Regions from separate parts of the Homo sapiens genome. Here regions 2, 3, 4 and 5 are each linked to region 1. Evidence: fine-mapped expression QTL. A gene starts in region 1. Each other region holds a variant in brackets. All regions are shown on one strand. Distances are from middle to middle. Region 1 holds the start of HIVEP1 (HIVEP zinc finger 1). Region 2 holds the start of LOC124900221 (small nucleolar RNA SNORA67). Region 3 has its middle 35 kb from the start of HIVEP1. Region 4 has its middle 68 kb from the start of TMEM170B. Region 5 overlaps LOC107986570 (a long non-coding RNA gene).

What was found. PIP is the estimated chance that this variant, and not a neighbour inherited with it, causes the effect.
Region 2: its variant is fine-mapped to the expression of HIVEP1 in T cells (TOPMed, PIP above 0.99). The same link has a PIP of 0.9 or more in blood mononuclear cells and whole blood.
Region 3: its variant is fine-mapped to the expression of HIVEP1 in whole blood (TOPMed, PIP above 0.99).
Region 4: its variant is fine-mapped to the expression of HIVEP1 in whole blood (INTERVAL, PIP 0.98).
Region 5: its variant is fine-mapped to the expression of HIVEP1 in nasal epithelium (TOPMed, PIP above 0.99).

Annotation. Positions count from the first base shown.
Region 1 is chr6:12,009,633-12,014,736 of GRCh38, forward strand. It overlaps HIVEP1 (HIVEP zinc finger 1), which reads left to right and starts at 2,680. Exons shown (of 9, transcript NM_002114.4): 1 at 2,680-2,934. RefSeq lists an enhancer at 731-1,275 and silencers at 1,605-2,514, 2,695-2,834.
Region 2 is chr6:11,707,712-11,712,815 of GRCh38, forward strand. LOC340184 (a long non-coding RNA gene) reads left to right here. Exons shown (of 3, transcript XR_001743973.2): 3 at 2,372-2,688. It overlaps LOC124900221 (small nucleolar RNA SNORA67), which reads left to right and starts at 2,108; the gene lies at 2,108-2,249. RefSeq lists an enhancer at 3,929-3,978. The variant G/A (reference allele first, on the strand shown) is at 2,610.
Region 3 is chr6:11,974,288-11,979,391 of GRCh38, forward strand. No RefSeq gene overlaps it. Among named protein-coding and RNA genes, the nearest start is that of HIVEP1, 35 kb to the right of the region's middle. RefSeq lists an enhancer at 4,167-4,396. The variant C/G (reference allele first, on the strand shown) is at 3,115.
Region 4 is chr6:11,602,783-11,607,886 of GRCh38, forward strand. No RefSeq gene overlaps it. Among named protein-coding and RNA genes, the nearest start is that of TMEM170B, 68 kb to the left of the region's middle. The variant AAAG/A (reference allele first, on the strand shown) is at 2,207.
Region 5 is chr6:11,959,032-11,964,135 of GRCh38, forward strand. It overlaps LOC107986570 (a long non-coding RNA gene), which reads left to right. Exons shown (of 4, transcript XR_001743976.2): 4 at 1,525-1,971. Among named protein-coding and RNA genes, the nearest start is that of HIVEP1, 51 kb to the right of the region's middle. The variant A/G (reference allele first, on the strand shown) is at 2,356.

The sequences.
Region 1 (5,104 bases):
ATTTGCCACAAAACAAGCCTAAAGAAGCTACTTTATAGTATAGCCAGGTTTCCCTGCATCCTGATATCTGGGAAGAATTGTAGGCAGAATTAGGAAAAGAAACTGCATTTAGAAAATTCAAAAACTTACTAGGAAACTATTCTGTATTGTATATATTTCAAATAAAAGTTTAATATCGGTTTGCTGCTCAAGGAAATAGTTGAAATGTCAAAATTTACCTATCGTAATTCGAAATTGCATGTATGTTTTGTTAGAAAGTTCGTAGTAATGCTGAATCCTACATAAACATTGTGTTGACAGTATGTTGTGCTCAACAATTATTGGGTTAAACGTTATTCATTCAGTTAGCATTTTTCACTTCCAAAGTGATACAAACTTCACTCATTATCACATTACCTTTCTCCTGACAGATTAATAGCTATACGTTCACAGTTAAATGCATGTTTACTTTTGGATTCAAATAACCCAGTTGGGAAGTTACATTATATACTTTTTTGGTGATTGCAACCTATTGGATATCATTTCATTTCACAAATGAGAGATGGTTATAGCACAATGAAAATAAAAATTGCATTATTTCATCGTAGGGTTAGCATTAGTATGCTAGACATAATTGTACATGTACACAGTTGGATGATCTTTGCTTTTATAACCAAATTTACTTTGTAGTAGGCATATTTCTCCCTTTACATGATATTATTTTTGGCTACACACTCGCCATTACTGAGTATTCCATTTTTAATCATTCCCATTCTGGTGGTTTGAGCTTTTCTTAGCTCAAATGAGCCAGAGGTACGATTTCCTCAGGGGAATTTTAGGGGTCAACTCCAGCAGGAAAAACCTAGACGTCGTTATGGAAGCCCAAGGGAACAAAACAATTCAAGTTTGCACAGATGGCCAGCTGTCTTAGTGGTTGTATGGTCGTTTAGCATTTTTATTCCTTAAAAGGGGAAACCAGTTTAGTTTCATCAGGGATTTTTTTTTTTTTGCATCAATTTTGTTTCACCTTATTCCTCTCAAGTTTGAGGTGGCCCGTTAAACCAGCCACTTTTGCTTCTTGAGGTGGACCTGTGGAATTTCTGTGCCCCAAACTGCGAACGTTCTTTAGGTCTAACCCTGAAAACCTTCGTTACCCTGGTCCAGCCCCTCTTCACTGCTTTGCCATGGATTTCCACTCCTTGCTTTCTCTACTGCTTTCTAGCAGCCGGGGTCACACCTTGGTTCATGCTAATTACTCCCTCTTCCCCTTTCACGCTCTCCCCTCTTCCCTGGAGCCCGGTCCGACGACCAGCCCCGCACCCCCCTTTTCTGTCCCCGAAGTCCCCTCCCGGGTTGGCCCTATAAGCTGTCAGGCTGGCAGGCAGGGGTTAATTGCGCTCGCAGCTTCGGCACTGGGAAGCACCAGCGGGGCTTTGGAGCGGCCTCTGGAATAACCTTGGCTTTCCTCGCTCTTTTAATAGAACATCCGCCACCAAAAAGTGGTTTCAGTTCAGGGTTAACATGTCCCCTTCCACTCTCCAAACCAACACCCTGCCCCCTCCGTTTTTTTAAAAGTTGTTTTTCAAAGTTAATGAGTTTTAAGTTTCACAATGACTTTCCCCTTCCTTCTACGCGTTGCTGAGGAAACCCCCTTGGGGTCCCCCCCCCCCCCCGCCTCCCCCTCCCCCATTCTGCCCGGGCGAGGGGCGGGGCCGGGAGACCCCATGACGTCAGCGGCCGGCCCACATCCTGCTGTAGAAAGTAAAGAGACGGTAAAGAGAAACTACGGCCCCGCCCGTCCCGTCCCTCTTCCCGGACCAACCGCCCCCAACTGAGCGACCCCGCCAGGCCTTCCCGGGGCCGCGTGACTGGCCGGGCCCGCCCCTCCGCCCCCGCCGTGTGCTGGTTCCCCAGGCGTCGCGACCCAGGGCTCCCGCCCCCCGCGTCCCTAACCCCGCCCCTCCCCCCCGGGCTGCGCTGCCACCTCCTCCCGCGTCCCCCTCCCGTCCCTGCGGCGGCTCGGCCGGGCGGGGCGGGGAGGGGCGAAGCGGCGGGTAGGTGGCGGGGCCGGCGCGGTCTGGGGCCCGCCCCGCCGGGGAGACCCGGGGCACTGGCTCCGGGTTCGTGCCGGGCCGGGCGCCCATCCAGTCCCTACACCCGGTCAGAGCTGGCGGCCGCGCCGGCCCAGCTGGGCCCCGGCGCCTGGGCGTCCCGCGCCCCTCGCCCCGGCCTCAACCCCAGCCCCCGCGGGGACGCCCCCTCCCCCGCCCACGCGTCGCCGCCCGCGGCCTCCCCTCCTCCCGCCCCCGGGGATCCCCTGCCGCCCCGCCCACCCGCGGGAAAGCCTCCGACCTTCGCCCTGCCTCCCCCGCGCCGCCCGGCCCGCGTTCCTCCCGCCGGCCCCAAAGACGCTAAACGTGCCCTACTCTGCCCCGGGGGAGAGGTAAAGCCCGCGCCCGTCCTTCCCGCCCCGGGCCCCGCGGCCCCAGGGTCTGTCCGCCCGCCCCGCCGCGGCGCGCGCCCCCCAGCCCGGCTGCCCGGCTCCCTGGCGGCCGCGATCATGCCGTGGCTCCGGGCGCCGGCGAGCTTCGCCGCCTCCTCCGCCCGGCGGCTGCGGCCCCCGCCCGCGCGCCCCGCGCTCCCCCCCCCGCCCCCCGGCCCGCTCCCCTGTTTAATATTTCAGTGCTGGGTGGTGTGAGCGCCAGTCGCCGGCCTTCAGCGTGGCGGCTGCTGGGCGGCGGCAGGGTGGCGGACGGAGCGGGGGACCGGGGAGCGGCGGCCGCCGGAGGAGGTTATGTTTGTGTTTGGGGTTGTCAAGTGAAGGAGGGATCCCAGGCGCCGCCGCCGCCGCCGCGCGGGGGTCGCGGAGATCCCGAGCCGCGGCCGCCGCCATCAGCAGCGCAGCTCCAGGGCCGGCTGCAGCGGCAGCGGCTCCGCCGGGCGTCCTGGCAGCAGGTTCGGCGCGGGCTCCGCGGCGGGGGCGCTGCAGCTGGGGAGGGCGGCGGGGCGGAGGGGGGGGGGGGCAGGAGCACATCCCTTCGGCGGGCGGGGGGCGTGCGGGCGCGCGTGTGTGTGTGTGTGTGCGTGTGTGTGCAACCGCCGACCTTGCAGAGGGGATGGCTGCGTGCGGGAGACCCTTGGCACTTCTGGGCGCCCTCGCCGCGCGCGAGCCGAGCAGGTACAGAGGGACCCAGCCTCCCCAGCCGCCTTCCAGCCGCAGACGCATTTTGCAAGAGGGTGGGGGGTGAAAGAGACCAGGCCTCGGCATCCCAACCTCCCGGCTTTGTGGGTTTCTTTCCCTTTCGTTCTTTGCTCTAAGTGCCTGTTTACTCCCGGCCACCTGGGTAGTTTCTTTCCGGGTTGGGAGTGCGCGCCAGCTGCAGTTGGGAAGGGGGCGGTGGGTTGGGGTGCGGGTCGGCTCGGGCTCGCCTTGGGGTCGGGCTCGGGAAGGAGTTGCTGGCTGGAGAGGGGAGGGGGCGGCGGCGGAGCAGGCGGCGAGGAGGAGTCTCAGGGCTGCCGCGCTCGCCTCATCTCGTCCTCCTCCTCCTCAGCTCTCTGCATCCACTCCAGGCTCCTTCCTGAGCTGGCACTTCCATTCCCCCCCTCCTCCTGGCATGCGAAGCGCTTTGTTCAGTGCAGCGTTGCAGAGGGGTTTTCCCAGGCTCCGCCCTCCACATTCATTCATGTTTTTTCTCCTTGCAACTGTCTTTACGCTTTTTGATCGTGTCATGTTTTTGCTCCATGTAGTATTTATTTCTTTCCCGTAAAGGAACGGTTTATCACTCGTCCTAGTCGCTACAATGCTGCTGTCTTTGGAAATACCCACTTCCCCCCACAAGGATTTAAATATGGGATGGACAGCTAGGGACAGTGGGTAGGCAATGAACGGGGTAGCAGAAAGCCTTTACGGACAGGGAATGTGCATATTTTACATTTATGCTCCGGATCCCATGGGATCACATGATTGGATTACAGTCAGAGTTCACGCTTTAAAAACTTCCAAATATCGTTACCATTTAAAAGCTTTAAGTTTAACAACGAACGTAGTTAAGCATTCATGCAATTTATTTGGTTCAGCTGTGTCTCAATTCTTTATTGAATCAGAACCTTCCTGAATTAGATAGTGGATGTTTCTTTAGAGCAAGGAGCTGAGAAACCCTATCTTTTATAGATCACTTAGCACAATGCTAGATGAAATACTTAGACCATCATTTTTTTTTGTATTATTTTACCATGTAGTTAAAAATTGCAAATAATTTTGTGCTGAGCTGACATACAGCCAGATCAGGGATAAAATACTGAAGTTAATCGTGGCCTTCTTTACCTTCTGTTTCTTTGCTGTAATGAAACCATAAATTTCTAAAACCTTATACTGGGATGTTAGACACATTCCTTCCCATATAGGCTTTCTTAAGGAGAATTAATAGTTCAGCGTTTTTGTGTGACAGGCAAAGCGTCTACAATGTTTAGTTTAGTCCTTATAACAACCTTCTGATGTGGATAATATTTCCTAATTTTACAGTTGGGAAATCTGATCTTCAGAGAGGTTAAGTAACCTGAACAAGGCCACACAGTAAGGGGTAAAGCCTGGCTTTGAACCCACTCCGGTTTGACACCAAGATAAGTCGTCATGACTTGCTGCGCCTCTTGAAAGAAATCCTGAAAGTAGATGTTATCAGCTCCACAAAATAAGCACTGGATATAACTGAGTCATGCAGTACCACATTCTTTAGTTGTTTATCTTGGACAAGTTACTTATCCAATTTTTTTTTAATCTGTAAAATGAATAAATGATAGCTACCTTCTTAGTTAACAGATTAAATTAGGGAATGTGTAGAAAGTACACAGGCACATAGTAGGTGCTCATAAGTGTTCTCTTGTCTTCTACAGTACCACTAATAACAAAAGCTTTAAGCCTTCCTTACTGTTCTATTCTTGTGTCTTTGCTTAATGACTAAACATTGTTTCATGTTTAACAGTGACAGTGGGCTTTGCTTCTCAGTTTTCTTGCAGTAAGTTAAAATTTCAGCTTTAAGATCCTTGAGAATCTTGTGGAAGAGCCTGAGGTGGCTGATTTGGGGAGATAGGTGATTCGGTTTTGGGTCATTCTTATCTTGGCCTATTA
Region 2 (5,104 bases), 300 kb before region 1:
ACACTACTCTCTCAAGACACAAAGCAGGTCAGACGTGGTGGCTCACGCATGTAATCTCAGCACTTTGGGAGGCTGAGGCAAGCAGATTGCTTGAGGCCAGCAGTTCAAGACCAGCCTGGCCAACATGGTGAAAACCCGTCTCTACTAAAAATACAAAAACTATCTGGGCATGATGGCACATGCCTGTAATTCCATCCTCTTGGGAGGCTGAAGCATGAGAATTGCTTGAACCTGGGAGGCAGAGGTTGCAGTGAGCCGAGATTGCACCACTGCACTCCAGCTTGGGTGATAGAATGAGACTCCGGCTCAAAAAATAAATAAATAAAAGACATAAAGCAAGTTTAAATTCCTGTAGTGCCAGCCAGATAATCAAGGCTGGAAACAGAGTGGCACATCACAGCTCTGTCCCCTCTGTCCACCCCTCCAAGGGCACGCAGAATTTAGTTGACCTACCAGCTGCCAAAATCATGGGCCAACTTCATTTTGGGGTGCTCTACCCACCAAGTAGCTCTCTCAGGGAGGGGTGCAGAACAATCATAACCTGCATCTATTGGCAGCTCACACGGTGAAAAATTATGAACTAGGCAAGTTTTGTCCTTGGAGTCTGCAGCTGACCCTTCCGCACCTGTTCCTTTACTAACAATATCCTCATTTTCGCTCTGCCAAGCACGCCCTCCCTCACATTAAAACTTGCTTTCAAATCATCAGATATCCTTCACTGAGAATTGAACATGCATGAGTTTCATAGGTCACTTCTTTCAGAAGTATTTACATGTTAAATCTGGCTCTCCATATGAAATGGGCGGCTTTATTGGTGAAAGAATTTTTTTGTACATTAGCAAGATATTTAGGGTGGCAGTGAGAACAGAGGCCCTTTTCATGGCCCCGAAATAACTACACCATGCAAGAGGCTGACGACATCATGGTAACGATGATGTGCTAGTCAGACTAGACTGGGCCTTAATGATAAACACTTGCCATCCGTCAGGAAGGGGTGAGAAGTCACCTAAGGTGAAATGAATTATGATGTAAACAAGGTTTGTCTTCAACATCCCCCCACCTCCTGTTTAAGGATCAGTCTTCCGGACTGGGACCCTAGTAGCTCATAGGCTCTCCTTTGAGTCATTAGGGCCATCTAGTCATCCACTCTAGAGCTTCCCTGCACGCAAGCCATTTATCCTCCAGGCCACTCCTCATCTCCTTCTCCTTTTCATCAAATGTATCTGCTATGCGTCCTATTCTATCAATGTTCATTCACTACCAGTCCACATGAAACTGCAATTTGCTCGTCACTGTAAATAGAATTGTGGTATGTAAGATGGAGAGAGTATCTGAAATGAAACAATAACTCTAATGTTGAGACTATCAGCTTCCAGGGAAGCCTAGGGTGGAAGATAACTGGTGATGATGCCTGTAAGGTTAAGAAGCTATAAGGAATCCTCAAGTCCGCCTGTATTTTTGAGTACTTTCTAATGGTGCAGAGTTAGGCTTTGTTGGAGATATAAAGAGGTAGACACGGCCCCTCATCCCGGGAGTTTGCAATCAAGCAGGTGGGATGGTGAATTAGGCCATTCTTGCATTGCTATAAAGAAATACCTGAAGCTGGGTAATTTATAAAGAAAAGAGGTTTGATTGGCTCACAGTTCTGCAGGCTTTACAGGAAGAATGGTGCTGGCATCTCCTGGGCTTCTGGGGAGGCCTCAGGAAGCTTACAATCACGGCAGAAGGTGAAGGGGGAGCAGGCACGTTATATAGTGAGAACAGGAGCAAGAGAGATGGGAGGAGGAGGGGCCACACACTTTTAGACAACCAGATCTCGCCAGAACTCACTATGGCGAGGCCAGCCCCAAGAAGATGGCATTAAATCATTCATGAGAAATCCACTCCCATGATCCAAACACCTCCCACCAGGCCCCACCTCCAACACTGGGTATCATGATTCAACACGAGATTTCGAGGAAACAACACCCAAACTATATCAGACGGAGATCTTGGGAGCCAGGCACTTGCATCCACCACTTTAAATAATCTTATTATTTAATTGTGGTGGTATCATTATCTAACTTTGCAGACAAGGAACCAAGGCTCAGAGGAGTAAACTATTTTTATCCAAGGTGAGTCTCTCTCCAAGGGGCTGACTAGTGCCTCTCTTAGGACAGTAGCAAGTTGGAATAAAATCTGGCATGCCTAAGGTCTTTAAGGAACAGGGGATGCTTACTTCTTTTGCGTTCCTCTGGCGGCCTACATAGCATACTTAAGCTCCTTCTGGATAGACTGTGTCCTCTTATTCACATGCTGAAGTTGTTATATATTTTTAAACAAATAAAAAGTGAATAATACATTTTTCTAAAAAGTAACTGATTTTCTCTAGGTTCCATACAGATAGCCAGCCATGGGAGTCAGAATTTGAACTCAGATCTGGTCTGGTTCTGAAGCCTCTCTTCTTTCCAGCTGTGAGACAAAGGAGCAAATATGAGAAGCACCTTTTGCTCACTTCTGCTTGCCAGCAGAATTTCACAAAAGCCCTGGACTGTGAAGATGTTTGGAAAGATGCTTTGAAGACAAAACCTTTAACAGGGTTAGTGTTTATGCCTCTGTAATCTACAACC[G/A]GATGCGCTCTTACACCCAAGCCTTGATGGGATTCTGCTGCGACGGAAATTCTGAGCAAATTTGATGTGATTGTGCAGGTACTGAACCTCCACTTCCTGTCTGTAAGCAGTGGGCTGAAATCCTGGGCTGGAGCAGTCTCATAGGATCTGACAGGCTGTTGCCAGGCTGTAGGCCTTGGTCTGTAGTCCTCAGTAAGACTTCTGAATACAACTAACTTTAATTCTTTAAAAGCTTGACTGTTTTCTTTAGTCGGCATGGCATTCCATACCATTCCAGAAACAGAAGCCAGGAGGATACGTGAAGGAGAGAGCAATGGCATAGTGTGTGAAGCTGATTAGCTGTTAACTAGCAGAACTGAGAGAAGGCAGCCGGCCAAATGCCCCGGAGGGGCAAGGAAAAGCTTTTTCAGAGAGTTGGGAAGTGGCACTCCAGTGAGGTCGGAAGCCATGAAGGTTGACTTATTTATTCCACAGTAGCTACAAGAAGAGGGGTCTTTCTAGGGAGTGTGACCAGTTTAAGCAAAGGCTTGGGAGGAGGAATAATAACGTGCTGGAAGTGGGAAAGGGGACCTGGTTAAGGGGCTGAAAGTTATTCCTTGTGGATCACCTTCTCATCACACGCTCTTTGACCTCATTGTAGTTCAATGGAGGGAAAGAGAGTCAAAAGCAGGAGGGAAGTTTGTTTCTAAGCGGACAGGGGCTCAGCAAACCCAGTCTTCCCCGCAGTCTTACCTGGAGCCATTGCCTGGGGAAGAGGGTGTTCAGGCCACAGTATCCCAAGGCTGGGGGCACCTTTGCTCAGAAGCCCCCTGTGGTGCTGCTCCTCAAGAGCCTCCTGGGAGGAAGGGCCAGGGAGCCAGGCGGTTCTCCCTTCCCCTTCTGGAATCCTGGCCAGTTTCCATGTACATAACCCAGCTTAATCCATAGAAACAGGAGCTGCAAGGCATGTTCTTTCTCTTTTTTTCCTCTCCAAGACACGGAAACCTTTATTTTCTCCCTACATCACAAACCGGTACTGTTAAATAATATTGGATAATTGCACCTGTCGTACTCCCCATATTGTGCTGGGGAAAAATAATTGCTGGTTTTCTGCTTTGCCGTTTAGCTGTGACTCCGTCATTTGACTCGGAGCATGTCATTTTCTCCCATTTTAGACCGTGTACAGTCAAACCCTGTGAAAGGACTCACAGATAGCGGCCCTGCGTGTATGAGTGGGCGCGGGCCTCATTCAGCAACGATTTCTAATTTATACAGCATTGAATATCCACAGCTATAAATAAACAGTTCTGACTGGCTTTGCTGCCTACTCAAATGCTTTATTAAAAAAAAAAAAGTCACCAGCAACTGCATGAGAAAGGAAAACAAGAATGTCTGGATGTGGATTCTGGCTTCTGAATCCTGGGCTTGGGAGTGGAGACGCCCCACCTTGGGAGCGGCTCAGTGCTCAGCCCCTCCAGTTTTTGGAAGGCCTGGCCTCCTCGCTCCTCGCTCAGCCCCTCACGCTCCCCACGTGTGGGTGCAATGTGTTTGGGGATTACAGTATATGAAACTGGCTTCCTGTTATGACAAGTATTGCAAGTGAGTAGGTGTGGAGGAGCTGAAAATAGCTTAAGAAATGTAGGACCCTTCTGGGGAGAGAATGGGGTTAAGGCATTGTTTAGGCAACAAGACGAATCTTCTACCCAAATTCAAAATTGGTTTCAAATGTGAGACAGCAACACTGGAACAGAAGCATGAGTATAGGCCAGTCCCTGGGGTAGTGGTGGCAGCGTCCTTCCTCCTCCTGTAACGGGGACAGTTTCCACCAATTTGGGATCTCTTGACCACCTTCTTTTGTCCAGCTCTGCAAGATGTGGACACATTTCTGTTTTGTTTTTTAAATAAAGTTTTTGGATGACCCGGTACTGCTTTGCTCTGTAAGAAAGAGGAAGGAAAGTGGGCTCAGGAGTCAACTATCCATGTGACCTTGGACTTGTCATTTCCCTGCTCTGAACGCAGAGGTGTGCTGGAGCCAGTTTGCACAACAGGCTCTCGAGGACTAAGTGGTTGTCCACATCTCTTCCCAACTGTACATTCAGCAACGTGCTGCCAGCTTGAAAAAGGCCATGGGGAGAGTGTTTACACCATGGAAATGAGCACACATTATCAATCAGAGCCTGACATCTTTTCCCCAGAGAGCTGGTTGTTAAACCTTTCCCAGCACACCACCCTCAGAAACTCAGTTTGCTCATTTGTAAAATGAGAACGTAACTCATCTCCTACTTACGAAGTTTCCGTGGGCTAGAATAAGTGGGAGTGGTGATGAATTACTTGACACTACACAAATATTGCTGGTATCATCATGTGGTTGCTATAGTTGTCATTTTCTATTAAGGGCCTAACATAGTGCTATGCAATCTGCAAATACCATATACCTTTTAGCAAATGTTTAATCAGTGTGTTATTGTTTTGTTGTGTATCTTTTCTTAAGCTACTGCAGCACCGAGCATGCCCTT
Region 3 (5,104 bases), 35 kb before region 1:
GCTTGTCTACATTCTTATCTATCTCTAGGTGTGTCAGTGTTTTCTATTTTTAGAAGACTCTCAAAGATGAAAATCATGATTTATTTATGTGTAATGGAATAACATTTGGTGGATAAATCTACAAACAATTCTCTTTGCACTAATTAGAAGAGTTATTAATTTTTTGTCTTCAGATACATAGTGCTGTGTAATTATTGAGTGAGCCTGTTTAAGAATATGGATGGTCCGAACACCTCCCAAATAGAAAGGGACCATCCTCAGGCCTGAATGACACTTTGAGGTGTTACTGCCAGTGAGTGAAAATATCTGACCTGCCAGTATCGCAGGAGAGTACCATAGAACTTTTTATTCTGCATAGCCATTAGGGAACAAACCATCCTATAGAGGACAGGAGTGTTGATCTTTGACTACGAACATTTAAAATCTTTGAACTTTATAAAAAAAAAACAAGGTGAAAATGCTTGAATGCTTACATACATTATGTGGTATATAATTAAACCTTTTTGGGTGTAAAAGTATTATTTCAGCTCACAAACATGTTTTGTGTTCAAGATAGTGCATGATGTCTTAGACATACAGAAATGGGATTAAGGCTTTTTCTCAATGAGCTTACACTCTGATGATGGAGTAGCTATATCAGTTTTTTACAGAAAGAGGTAAACAAAGATATAGATGTAAACTGTAATCTGTATGTTAAAGTAAAGACACAAAGAGATATCTAGAATGACTCCTGGGTTTCTGGTCCAAGTTACTGTGTAGACTGTGGAGCTGTTTGCTGTGATGGGAATGAGAATGTCCCCCCAAGGATGAGCACTAAGGGAGTGATGACGAGCTCACTTGTGAGTTCTAGAGATGATGATGAAGATGACGTGGGATGTATGGCCCCAAGAGTGGCCCTAACATTGACTTATCGAGAAAGTCATTGACTTGAGCATGCATTTTTGGCATCTAGCTTATTATTATAAAAATGAAACAAGGCTGGGAGTGGTGGCTCATGCCTATAATCCCAACAGTTTGGGAGGCTGAGGCTGGTGGGTCACCTGAGGTCAGAAGTTTGAGACCAGCCTGACCAACATGGTGAAACGCTGTCTCTACTAAAAAAAAAATTTAAAAATTAGCTGGTCATGGTGGTGCATGCCTGTAATCCCAGATACTCGGGAGGCTGAGGCAGGAGTATCGCTTGAACCTGGGAGGCAGAGGTTGCGGTGAACGGGGACCACACCACTACATTCCAGTCCGGGCGACAGAGCAAGACTCCGTCTCAGAAAAAAAAAAAAAAAGAAAAGAAAAATAAAAGAAACAAAATCTTTCGTATACCACCCACACACATTCACATATTACTCATGTTTCAGAGGACTTTGTATGTGTCCTTCAGTGCACGTGGCTGTTTGTCCCCTCAGAGTAGGAAGCAGCTGTTCTAACTTCCGTCTTCGCAGAAGGTTGTCATCTCCTCTGTGGTGAGGGCTCTGCAGAGTCACTGCTTGTTTGACCACATTCAGATTGCGGCCAGGGCTAAAGTCACAGCTTACCTCTTCAGCTCTCTACCGAACTGTATTTTCCTTGACCTGTTTCTTGCCAATCTTTTAATGTTTCTCATCCTCCAAGTTAACAACCCAATAAAAATTAGTCTTTTGTTAACATGCACCACAATGCTTCTCTTCTCAGAGGCCAAAGGACCTGCCTCAGCAACAGGGCTCTCACCTGCACTTGGCATGTTTAGAGTTAGGAGTTCCCACTCCACTGCCTTCTTGCCTCTGGCGAGGGCGAAATGAGGGGTGTTGTCCTGGCTCTTCCCAATTTCAGTCATTTCACAAGTCTGCAGTGTTCAAGTGCCTCAACTTGCAAAAACCATGGTTTTATAACATGTTAATCTTGAATTTGGTGTTTTCACTAAAGGCAAGCATCTTCAACTATAAAAGTTTTATTTTATTTATTTATTTATGTATTTATTTACTTTTTACCTCAGATTCTGCCAAGAAGTTCTTGAAACGATGTTTCTTGTGCCATAATAAACCTGGAAAAATAGCAAATAGATACTACACTAGTTTCATATTATGAAGAGATTTGTATGTGCTGTTCAGGAGGCTGAACTGTGTTTAGAAGGCAAAGAAAAGCCCTAGCAGGTTTCAGATAGAGAGCAACAGAGATCTTCCTCTTTCCCTTGCTCACCTCTTCCCAGGAGTAAAGAAGCCAGTGTAATACATTTCCTTCTGAGAACAAAGCACTGTTTTCTGGCCTCCACTGTTTCTCTGAAAGTGGCTTCTCTGTGCTTTTAGTTTTTCTAGGAGTTGAGAGAAAGACCACTCCAGAGGACAGTGAGATTAGCCCCGAATGGGGGCCCTTTTGCTTTGTCCACACCAGATCCATCCCTGAGTGCACTGTGATCAGCCACTTCTCTATGTTTTTCTGATATTTTCACTTCCTGCTTGCCCCCTTCTCCCCCACAGTGGACATATGATGTCTTATTCTTTCCACTCAGCTCAACTGTGTCCCTTTGGGGAGAATCAACACTTTTCTCATCTGATTTGCCATATAATTGATCAGATATCTCCATTATAGTTCCTATCATACAGTGTTGTGATTAGTGTATGTAACTATCACATGGCCAGGGAGACCTACTCTAGGTATCCCCAGAAACCAGCAAAGAACATGATACTTCTTGGCCTCAGCATGTACCTGTTGAATAGAAGGAACTAATTGAATTAAATAAGGATAACTTGGCTGGCATTTTTCTTCCTTTGAACATTATAAGTACTTGTGGGAAAAGGTAATATTATCAGCATCCTCAAACCAGAAGAGATGATAGACAATGAAATATGACAAAAGCATACTGCAAATATTACAATTGCAGCATTTGTTCTCCCTACAATACCAAATGATATGCAGTAAAAAGACTTAATCCAGGGAGGAATCAGGATTTACACAAAGTAAATATTGAGAAAAGGAGTGACTTAAACAGCAATGAAGAAAAAAAAAAGAATTATCTGCATGCTACCATTCACCTCAGTTCAGGGCCTGTCTTTTCCCAAAATTTGTTTTTAAGTTTTTGTGTGGAGTTCTTTATCACACAGATCACCGCGCTTGGTTAGGCCTGGCCCTCACTCTGATGTCAGA[C/G]ATGACACCTCTTGGTCAAGCTGGGACCAGTAGAGTGATTAGTTTCGTTGGTGTACATCTGTTCCACTTCCTTCAATTCCCTGTTTCTGATTATTTTTTTCTGCATCTTCCTAAGATGCATTTTTTTTTCTTTTTTTTCCGAGACAGAGTCTTGCTCCTATCGCCCAGACTGGAGTGCAGTGGTGTGATCTCGGCTCACTGCAACCTCCACCTCCCAGGTTCAAGTGATTCTCCTGCCTCAGCCTCCTGAGTAGTTGGGATTACAGGTGTGCACCACCATGCCCAGCTAATTTTTGTATTTTTAGTAGAGACGGAGTTTCACCATGTTGGCCAGACTGGTCTCAAACTCCTGATGGTAAGTGATCCGCCTACCTCGGCCTCCCAAAATGCTAGAATTAGAGGCATGCACCACTGTGCCCAACCCTAAAATGCATTTTCTATTATTTATTCTCCATGACTTTGTTAATTTCCCCTTCTCTTTTTATATGTTATTGTCTATATGATACTGGCTAAATTTCGAGATGATCATTTGGAAATGTCAGCATTATCTATACATCATTTTTGGACAATATGTTCAAACACAATTATAGTAGGGTTTATCTATTACTTTATACATGTTGCTTAGAAAAAATGCATATTAGGAATTTCTCAAGTAATTTTAAATTTTAAAGGCAACCAGATCTTAGCACTTCTGTTTTAAAATAAACAACAGTAAATAATTGTATTTCATTGTGATACCAGAAGATCTTCTAAAATGTTTGTATATTTGATATGTATACATAGCATATATATGCCATGTATATTTATTTGCCACATATATACTAAAAAGTCATATACATTTATGTATTTGCCACACTCACTTGTATGTGTATGTGTATGTGTATGTGTGTGGTTGTGTGTGTATTTGTCACTTCCCTCATTTGTCATTTGCCTCTTAACTATAAATGGCATACTTGGGTTACCATTGTTTATAGTGCTTATCTTATTTAACTGATCAGTATTTTCTTTACCAGCTTGCCTTTACATGTCAGAAAAAGAGTTACCATAAACTTTAGGTTCCAGGGATCCTCACTTATATGGGCCATTTTCAAGGCTCTGGAAGGAGTCCTAGTCATGTGTTATTCTGGTCATAAATCTTCCAAAAGTCAGATACTTTAACAACATTCAGTTTCTTTTCACTTTTACTTCCGGTCCATTACACTGAACTTCATGTTAAATGACATCAGAGACTAAAGGCAGTTAGAGGTCTAACTAAGGGAAATTGAACTTAAGATACATTTAGTTTAGTAGTATGCATGTATGTAGTTTGCTCTCATTTCTGAGTACAATTTAGTTCTTTCTAGCTATGTCTCTGTAGCAATGACTTCCAGGAATAACAATATGCTGGAAATATACAGACCTGGGAGCTAGTCTGCAAAATTATAAGCACAGGGTTTGGTTTTCATCAATACCTAGCCATAACAGAAATTTTCTCCTGTTAATGCACAAAAATAATTCCAACTTGATAATGCAATATATATAATTTTGTATATGTCCATACAATAAAAGTATGTGCTGTGTATTTCAATATGTCAGTAGAAACAATTCTGACATTTAGAAGCAAAATATAGCCAAAAACCCCTCACCCAATACTGAAAACAGAATTCATTAAAATAAAGAGATAAATTTGAAATGTAAGTGGTGAATACACCATAGAATTGTTTGATTTTCCAGTTAATAAAGAGGAGTGTAACAAGCTGAAAAAAAAATACATTTTTCACTAATTTGTCAGGAAATACAAACATCAAGAAAGATAAATACAAATAATGTAAAAAAATACAACATTGCAATACCACCAAGGACAGTTTGTTCAATTAGTGTAACCAATTCAAAGAATGTCTTAAGGTTAGACTTTATAGAGGAGAACTTGAAATGCCCCAAGGTCTTCCACTTCATATATGAAGAAACTTAGAGGTTTTCCCAATTCAGCAACAACACTAAAAATTTACAT
Region 4 (5,104 bases), 410 kb before region 1:
ACCCTCACTCTCTCTCACCGACTTCTTCCACCTCAGCCTTCCTGGATGCCTGGACCAAAGGACGTTTCCTCAATCATGATCCTCCCCCTCCCCATGCCACGTTAGCCTCCCCTTTTTCAAACTGTGTTTCCCGGGCTGCAGTGGCACTTCTCTGCCTTGATTTTTCTCATACCCTTGAAATCATTCCTGTGTCTTCTTTCCTAATCTTCCTGCCCTTCCCACTCCCGCTTCTTTCCAAATGTACAGGCTTTGTTCATTTTCTCTATATGTACATTCTAGCCTTATTTTTCTTTCTTCTTTGGACTTTATCTGTTACCTCTGCGAATGGCCCCTGGAAGTGGGGATGATATCAGTGGGTGTGCACCAGCCCAGCTGTGCCCATTGTTCACAGTATGCCCATTTCCATGGCTATTGCCTGTGCCTTACTGGTTATTTGATATTTAGAATATTTGTCCTGCCTAGGAGTCCTTCCTCCAAGATACCTCAAAATCTGTAATTATATAAGACAGGAGAGGTTCTGAAGCAACAGCTATGAGTCAAGAAAAATAGCCACTCAAAAGACTTTTCATTTAGTTCATTTAGTAAGAATTGCTTCTTTGAGATCCTGCTCACAAGGCCTGGGTGACAAAAGCCCACTTCCCCACCCTCTTCTGCTCCTCTCTCCCAATGGAAGTCACTTCTTCCTTCTTTGTGCTCCTACAGCACTTTATTTGGGTCTGTAATTACACATCATTATTAATAATGTACACTCTGCCCTTTATTATTTGTGTATGTCTGTCTTTATCTCTGCAATGACTATTGGTTTTTCATTTCCTGTAGTGATTTAAAATACGTACCCATCATGGGATACATGTTGACTGAATCCACCTGCATTGGGATGACTGCTGCAGAAGGCATTGACTCTGTTTCATCCCTGCACTTATTTGGGCTCATGTGCAATGCTGAGCTACCCAGAGGACATCTGTGTGAGTTCCAGCAGCAGCAGCCAATCAGCTAATCATCCTTTTTCCAGTGCCAGGCGAGGTTGACTGGGACCCTGAGTTTGGTTCTACCGTTTGGAAATAACACAGAGGATTACTTCTTGGGGTCTCTCAGCCAACCAAAGTCACTTCTTAAGACTGGGCCTTTCTACAGAGGAATCTTAGGAGCAGAGGCTCTTAGATCAGATGAGAAAAGGGTGATGGAGAATCTGGTTTTCCTTCTCAGATCGTTCCTTTCAAGTCCCATCCTAAAGACTTCACCAACGCTGAGGTCCAACTATCCTGATCAGAATTCAAACCAGGTTCCCATGAGCACTGGCTCATCCACAAAGTTAGTAGGCTTGGTAATGGCCAGGCCTTGAATTCCCAGAGTCTTGGATTGACCCAACCAGGGAGTAGTTGGAGAGACACATGACAAGGGCCATGCCCTGGAAAGCTGGGCCAGAGCACCTATCAGTTGATCACAATTGCAGGGCATGAGGTGAGAGAGAAAAGTAACAGAGTAACCAAGAAGTCGCCCTCCTAAGTTGGAGCAAGGTACCAAATGACCTAAAGTATTGGGGTGGCAGGACTGACTGTGCAGGGCACCCTGTCTGGGGCTGATGGACTGGACATAGAAGGATGAGGAAGTTGTCAGCACCAGAGAGTTGATGCTTATCTCCAGGAGATCAGCTGGGTGGTACGGGGCTGACCATAGAGTTAGGACGGGTGCTTCCTCACAGGGTAGCATGGAAGAGAAGGTTTTATTGCAGTAAGAAATTTAATCCCCTGGCAAAAGCAGTAATACCAGGATGACTTAAACTAGCTGGTAAAGTGGGAAGGAGGGAAGGGAGATGGAAGGGGTGAGGACAGACGGATCAGAATTTGTGCTTTGGGCAAGTCATACATACATACGATTTTGTGGATTTTGTCATGGTTAGAGGCAGGAGGGCCGTGATCAGCAGGTTTTCACTATTACGCGGGTCCCTAGACACATTCTTGACTTTCAAAATTTCATCACAGATATGTGAAAGATTCTGTGGAAGAATATAATAGCAAAAAAAAGAAGAAGAAGAGGGAGGGGAGAGGAGGAGGGGGAAGGAGGAGGGGGGAGGAGAAGGGGAGAGGAGAAGGGGGGTAGGGGGAGGAAGGCGAGGGGGACGAGGAGGGGAAGGGGAGGAGGGTGGGGGAGGAAGAGCGGAGGGGGAGGAAGGGGGGGTGAGGAGGGGGAGGAGGAGGAGAAGAAG[AAAG/A]AAGAGGAAGAAGAAACAGCAAACTAAGGATTCTGCCTCTAAACTGACAGTAGTCAATTTTTATCAGCTTCCAGAAGCTTCTTTTTTTGAATACTCAGTTAAACATGCATCACCTTTGTTTTAGGAACTTGGAATAGAAAACAGAGTACAAAGAACTCATCAGAACACCACAGACAGGACCTCTTGATCACTGGAGAAGCTATTCAGGCAGCCACTGTCCCCAGAGAACCCCAGGAAAGAACAAAAACAGGGGTGTCATTTTGGAGCCTTCAGTCAAGAATCATCTCCTGTTCTTGGCTGGGCTGCCATGAGGGTGGGGTGCACACAGAGCCCTGGGAAAGGAAGAAAACACGGTTGCAACACCACTATTTTGTTTCTTCTAACACCCTCCTTTTTCCCCACTCACATTTGAGCACTTACGGGCATCATTTGTTCTAAAACAAAGGAAGAAAAATATATCTGTTATGAGTTCCCTCTGTGCTTGACTGAGTTACCTGGCATTGGGATGGCTTGTTTTCTGGGATGCCCAGAGCTGTACACATTCCTTTCTGGGGTGAATACTTCGTATAGAGAGACATAAACAGCCAACTAGGCTGCAGGGAGTAAACCCTGTTACTAACTTTTCTTTCTTTGGTGCTACATTCCTGCGGAGATAAATATATAGAAAGACAGACAGATTATAAAGGAGGAAGGGCATTGTGTCAGCATGAGGGCTCCAAGAGAACAAAAAGGGTTATCGTGTGCAAAGGTTGAAAATAGAATTTAAAGCTATCAGGACTGGGGAAAGAGTTGAGGCCTCCCAGGAAAAATCTGCAAAGAAAACTTGAACCTTCCAGGAAAACAAGCCCTGGGTAGAGTTGGGTGAAACTGAAACCTGAAAATCCATTTTCCAGAAATGCGATTGGGCAGAGAGGAGGGAAGCCACTACTATCAAGTTTTTCCCAGAGCAAGCAAGGCACGCTGGCTTTGTACAAAGAGGCTTATTTAGAAGCTGCCCTGAGCTGAATGCAGGCAGGTGGGGCAGGGTGGGAGGGTGGGATGGGTCGTTGAAATGAGCCATCCTAACCTTTCAGACAGAAACAGTGCAGCCTAGCTGCTCTGAGGTGCATGTTTCTAAAACAAGACCTGGAACATTAATTTTACATTTCAGTCTCTTTGTAAAAAGCAGATGCTCCTCGCCCACCCCCTTGTTTTTTTTTGGCAAGCTTGTGAAAATCCAACGAACCAAGTCAAGGCTGTCCGCTAGCCACGGGTGCCTTTATCTTGTGGAGTATCTGTTCCTTTGTGGATCAAGCATGGAATGAAAACCGTGCTGAAGAAAGGTCGCTTCTCATTTTAGACTCCATTTCAATGGGTAGTTAACCTCTGAGTCAACCGACTCTGTACCCATGTTCAATTTCCTCCGCCTGTTGGGCTCTTCCATTTACCCTCTTTTATAATTAGAGTACATCTTGTTTACAGTGCACAAAGCTGGTTTAAGATCCAGTTGGCCATGTGCCCTCTCGTTACAGGACCGTGCTCAGAACAGTCAGCTGTGAGTGCAGCCAGTGGGATGAAAAAAACTAAGGGAAGGAAGCTGCCCTTTAAGGAACCTCGGCCTTACTGATTAAAGTAATAATTAAGCCATTATATCTGTTGGGGAGCTATTTGGGCTTGCCTGCTACCTTTTCCAACAAAAGCCCTCAGCCAGAGATTCCAGCCAAGCACCTCATTATCATGTGGGTGCCAGGGCGGCATGCCAGGATCGGCACCCACCCCAGGCAACATGGTTTAAATTTTAAACACCTGTCATCTCCCTGCCTCCATGTATCATTCATTTTCAGAGGGGAAAGTGACCCTAACAGGAAGTGGGGCTGCCTGATTCTGGGTTTGCCTTTGAAAGCCAGAAATGACCCTTCTCCTGAAATTTTATTCCAAATTTAATTTGAAGCTATCTCAGTCTAGAAATAGATTTGCATTGGCATCTCTTGTTGCAGTTGGTAAGGAAAGGAATTTAGGATTCAATTAGAATTGGTCTTCATTCTTAACAAGATTGTTGTCTTAAAGACAAGAAATATATAGCATGTCTCACTGCATCCCTCCACTCCCCACCATGGCAAAAAGGGCCCTGGCATGCATATGTGATTTTGTGACATGCAAAGATCCACTTTTACAACTCCATGGAGGCATATCTTATTTAGAGAACACTAAGGTAGTTTAAGGCTCTCACTGGCCACTTGCCTTCTTAAAACAGAGACAACCTATGGATTAGAGAGGAAGCAAGACTGGAGAAGGCAGTTTGCACCGATTGGGGCAGGGCAGGTAGAGGAGTGAGCATGGTTGTAATAAACTGGGTGGAATTTAAGGTCTCAGTCCAAAGGCATCCCATCTTGCTCCTTCTGGACCCCGTCTCAAGCCTGGCTCCAGCTCCTGAGTCCCACGGCTCTCCAAGGCCTCTTTCTGTTCATCACAGCCTACGGAGAGAGATGCAAAGTGGTTTGTGTTTATTTTAGAAATAATCTCAACGTTGCCAGGAAAAGGCTTTCTGGAAAATGCTGCAGAACTAAAGCTGGTCCAGTAGAAACCGGTGTAAGTGCAAAGAGCAGAGCCAGCTCCTCCCCAGCTCTTTCCCCAGGCTGTTCTTCCTGCTTTTTGATCTCAGCCTCACTCTACTCCATCCCTTCTTGATCCAAGTCCAGAGTCTCTTTCACACCAGCCACGCTGCCAGCATTGTCGGGAGGTTTGATGTGGTGTGAATTCCTGCCCCTGGGAGATGGACGGAGAAATTCACAGAATCTTGGGAAAAGAGAGCTTGGGAAAATCCTGAAGTCTCTCTTTGCAGCCTTTCTTCTACCAACAGACAAGATGGAAACTGGCCATTTCAGAGCACTGGCTTCAAGGATGTCTAAGGGTAGA
Region 5 (5,104 bases), 51 kb before region 1:
TCAACTTCCAAAACATCTCTCCAGTCATTCTACTGAGTTCTACCTTCCATGCTTGGTCCCACCACTGACACGTCTCACCAGGACAACCACAATGACCTCCCAACCTTCTCTCAGCCTTCACTTCTTTCCCCACGGCCCATCCACATAACAACCACAGCGATCTTTTAAAAATTTAAATAGCCTTGTCCATTTCTGTTTAAGGGAATTGTGCTGCCTTGACCCTCAAGACAGCAGTTCTCGCCCAGACACACTCTCATTCTCCACCTTCTTCGTCAGTTGCTCTCCTTACTTTCCAAGCCAGCGCTGCTTCCTTTCCCTGTCCGCTTCCCTCCTCAGAGACTTCATGCTCACTTTCCCCAGATTTTTACTGCATTGATTCCTTCTCATCATTCATGCCTCAATTTAAATATTTATCAGTGACTGCTTCCCTGATCACACAATCTAAAATAGCCCCATTTCCATCATTTTGATCCCTGATCTTTCCCTTTATAGCACTTACAGACATGTATAATTATATATTCACTTGAGTGTATGCTTGTTTAATGACCCCTCCCCCAACCCCCACTTTCCCGTATAGACTGAAGGGAGGCAGGAACCGTGCCTGTCTCGTCTTCTATTATGTTCCCAGTGCTGAGCCTTGTATCTGGCATGCAGTAGGTGTTCAATGAATGAATGAGTAAACAAGCCAGAATAATCGGACCCAGAAATATGCTGAAGGGATATAAATGCCTAGCAAGAAGAAGGTTAGTAGGAATAACTATTATTTGTGTGATTTCAAGATACTAATGATGATATAGGGATAGATATAGGGCCCTTTTGGGAAGCCAAATGGCTGCACAAACAGTGTGGTAGGAACACAGTGTGGCCACTGTGTCTGCGCTGCACTGATTGGATCTAAGGATAATTTTGTAAACGCACCCATGGTGATTAGCAATTGGCTCATACTGAATAAACTCCTGACAGATTTATGTGTGCACTGCAATGCCAACTTATTAATTCATAATAATAATATAACAAGTCAACATGCAGCTCAATCACCACCTATAGGAGAGAGACAGGTAGCTAAATTATATCCAAATGATTAACTGCTCAGAAAAGATTCCTGGTCACAGATTACTATGCAGCTGAGATACCATCACCTTAGTCTAAGCTACCGTTGTCTTATGTCTGGTTTCTTGCAACAGCCTCCTGACTGTTCTCTGCACTGCCTGCCTCTCAAATCCATAAGGCACCCAGCAACAAAAGTGTTCCTTTTAAAACGCAAATCCAATCAGGTCCCTCCTCTATTCAAAACCCTTCAGTAGCTCCCCATTATATGAGAAGGAGCTCCAGCCCTGACTTGTGGTTTGTAAGGTTTGGTATGATCAGGCCCCTGCCTCCTCTCCAGCCTCATCAAGTGCCCCTCTCCCCAGCACTCCAGACTCCCCAACACAGAGGTGTGTGTTCAGATTTGAGAGTCTGACTATAGAAATGGGCAATGGCTAGATCATAAATAAAAACAGAATTCTGACCCTCAACCTGCAGCAACCAGCCCAGGAAGCCAGCCCATTATCCAGAGGAACCAACCAAGGAAGCCAGCCTGCTCTCTAGAAGCTAGACTTGTAGGAAGCCAGACCACTGTCTCTAGCAACTGATCCAGGAAGACAGAAAAGAACACCTCAATAACAGGACCAAAGTGGCCAGGACTTGACTGATGAGTAACTGACAGCTTCCCTAATTTTTGGCCCTACTTCCAACAGAAGAACAACCAGAGAAAGCCAAGTATGCACCTGATGCCCCACTTCCAGTGAGCCGCCTCCAGCTTCCCACGCCAACAGCTTCCAATCAGCACACTTTCGGAGCCTTCCCTTTTCTCCACGATGAAAGCTTCCCCACTCCTCTGACTGCCTTTGAGCCTCTGCCAAAACTCAAGTGATGGTAGCCGACTCCCTGCTACCGCAAGCTTGGAATAAACAGCCTTTGCTTTTCTCATCTGCTTTGTCTTCGTTTATTTCCACAAGATCCTTCACAGTGAGAAGCTGCTTCCTCCCTTGGAGCCTTTCTAACCCTGCACCCTCTGCCTGGAATGCTTCCTCCACCCTCCACGTGGTCAAACCTCTCCCTGTTTTCCAGATTTCAACTTGTGAATTGAAGACACCTTCTCTAACCACTCTGTAACCACTCCCTTCTCAGCCTCTTTTTTGGTTCCCTTACAGTGCGTGCCACAACTTGCAATCATTTCGTTTATTTTTTTGGTTTGCCTCTTTTCTACCTATCATCACCACTAGAATGAAAGCTTCATGAGGGTAGGGCTTCACTTCCGTTCAATCGGATCCTGAGGACCTAGAATAGAACCTTACAAACAGCAGGTACTGC[A/G]GAACTATGTTGAAAGATTGACAGGGTGAATAAATGATTGCATGCCTAAGGTAAATGCAGACTCAGTGGAAAAAACAATTGTGGCCAGCAACCCATTGAAAAAACCGGATTTTGAATGAGTCCACAGTGCTGCAGATTTGCTGATCTCCTTTGTGGACCGGGTGCAGGGTTGGGAGTTGGCTTCCTGTTGATCCCCTGTGATATACAACGCTCCATATCAGAGCAGTGGATGACGAACAGACATGGCCCCAGGATGCAGGGCTGAGTCTCAAAGTCTCATAAAGTCTCCAAACTGAGCATTTGGGTTACACAAGTTCTCTGGCCATCAAATGTTAGCCCTCCAGGCCTTCCCAGAATCCAGACCTCAATGTCAGCTTCATCTATCCAAACTGCTGAGAGAAGAGGTGGAATTTCACGGCTTAATAAGCCACAGGCCTTGTCCTTGAAGGACTTATCAAATCTAATCATTGGCCACAATTTCTTTGCAGCCAAGTGCATCAGTCAGGGCTCACCAGAGAAATAGAACCAACAGGATATACACTAAGAGATTTAATTTCAGGAATTGCCTCACACAATTGGGAGGGCTGGCAGGTTCAAAATATGCAGGGTAGGCCCGAATGTTGGAAGCTCAGACAGAATTTCTATGTTAGAGTCTTAGGCAGAATTCCTTCCTCTCTAGGAAGCCTCATTTTTCCTCTTCAGGCCTTCAACCAATTAGGTAAGGCCCACCCACGTTACTGAGAGCAATCTCCCTTACACAGAGTCACCTGATTGTAGATATGAACCACTTCTGCAAAATAATTTTCATAGGCCGGGTGCAGTGGTTCATGCCTGTAATCCCAGCACTTTGGGAGGCAGAGGAGGGCCGATCACCTGAGGTCAGTTGTTTGAGACCAGCCTGGCCAACATGGTGAAACCCCATCTCCACTAAAAGTACAAGAAAAAAAAATTAGCTGGGTGTGGTGGAGCATACCTGTAATCCCAGCTACTCGGGAGGCTGAGGCAGGAGAATCGCTTGAACCCAGGAGGCGGAGATTGCAGTGAGCTGAGATCGCACTACTGCACTCCAGCCTGGGCGACAAGAGTGAAACTCCATCTCAAAATAATAATAATTTTCATAGAAGGATCTAGATTAGTGTTTGCCCCAAAAGCTAGGCCCTATAGCCTAGCCAAGGAGACACATAAAATTGATCATCACATCAAGGTTTCAATGTTAAATCCCTCATTTTTTTTAAGTGAGTAAGATTATGACGTTCTCTGCTTAACACCCTCTGGGGCTGGCCATCACTCTCAGTTTAAATTTGCAGTCCCCTATCACGACTGGAAATGGCACAGCCTGATGTGACTCAGAAGGCACCTCTCTGGCCTGATCTCCTGCTGCCATACTTGTCACTATTGTACAGGGAGCACCTCAGCTGTCCCAGTCACCATCCTGCCTCAAAGCCTTGCAAGTTTCCTCCCTTTGCCTGGATGTCTTCTCTCTATGCCTATGGCTAACTCCTTCTAGAATTCAAGCCTCAGCTTAAATGTTTCCTCCCTTAAATGAGGGTTAGCTACTATGCTGCATAAAGTGACTCTCTTTAACTCTTGATCACATCACCTGCTGTCTCCTTCATCACCACATCACTATTTGTAACCACTGTTCATATAACTTGCCTAAAATTTAATTGGTGATTCTCAACCCGGGGCAAGTTTGGCCTCAGGTGACATTTGGCAATGTCTGGAGACTTTTTAAAAAACATACTATATTTATTCATTTATTTATTAAATATGAATTTTATTTTCTAGAGCAGTTTTAAGTTTTTAGCAAAATTAAGCAGAGGGTACAGAGAGTTCCTGTAGACCCTCTGCCCCCACACATGCTCAGTGCCCACCATTTTCAGCATCCCCCACCTGCGTGGTACATTTTTTTTACAATCAATGAGCCTGTGATGACACATCATTATCACCCAGAGTCAACAGTTTTCATCAAAGTTTCCTCCTGGTTTTGTACATTCTGTGTTTTTTGACGAGTCTAATGACATGTATCTAGCATTGTAGTATCATACAGAATAGTTTCACTGCCCTAAGAAGAATCCTATGTGGTCCACCCATTCATCCTTCTCTCCCCCACCAACCTCTGGTAATGACAGAAATTTTTACTGTCGCCATAGTTTTGCTTTTTCAGAATGTCATGGATTTGGAATCATACAGTATGCAGCCATTTCCAATTGGTTTCTGTGATGGTTAATTTTAGCCGTCAACTCAACTGGATTAAGGGGTACTCAGATAGCTGATAAAGCATTATTTCTGGGTATGTCTGTGAAGATGTTTCCAGAAGAGGTTGGCATTTGAGTCAGTAGACTAAGGGAGATCTGCCCTCACCAATGTGGGCAGTGCTCAGATAGGACAAGCAGGCAGAGGGAAGGTGAATTCTCTCTCTCTCTCTCTCTCTGTCTCTCCTGGAGCTGGGGCACCCTCCTCCTGCCCTTGGACATCAGAATTCCAGGTTCTATAGTCTTTAGACTTAAGGACTTGCATCAGCAATCCTTCAGTTTTCAGGCCTTTGGCCTCTAACAGAGTTATGCCATCAAACTCCTTGGTTCTGAGGCCTTTGGACCTGGACTGAGCCATGCTATCAGCTTCCCTGGTTCTCCAGCTTATAAATGGCCTATTGTGGGATTTCTCAGTCACCATAATTATGCAAGCCAATTTTCATAGTAAATCCCCTATTATCTATCTAGCTGTCTGTCTGTCTATCTGTCTATCC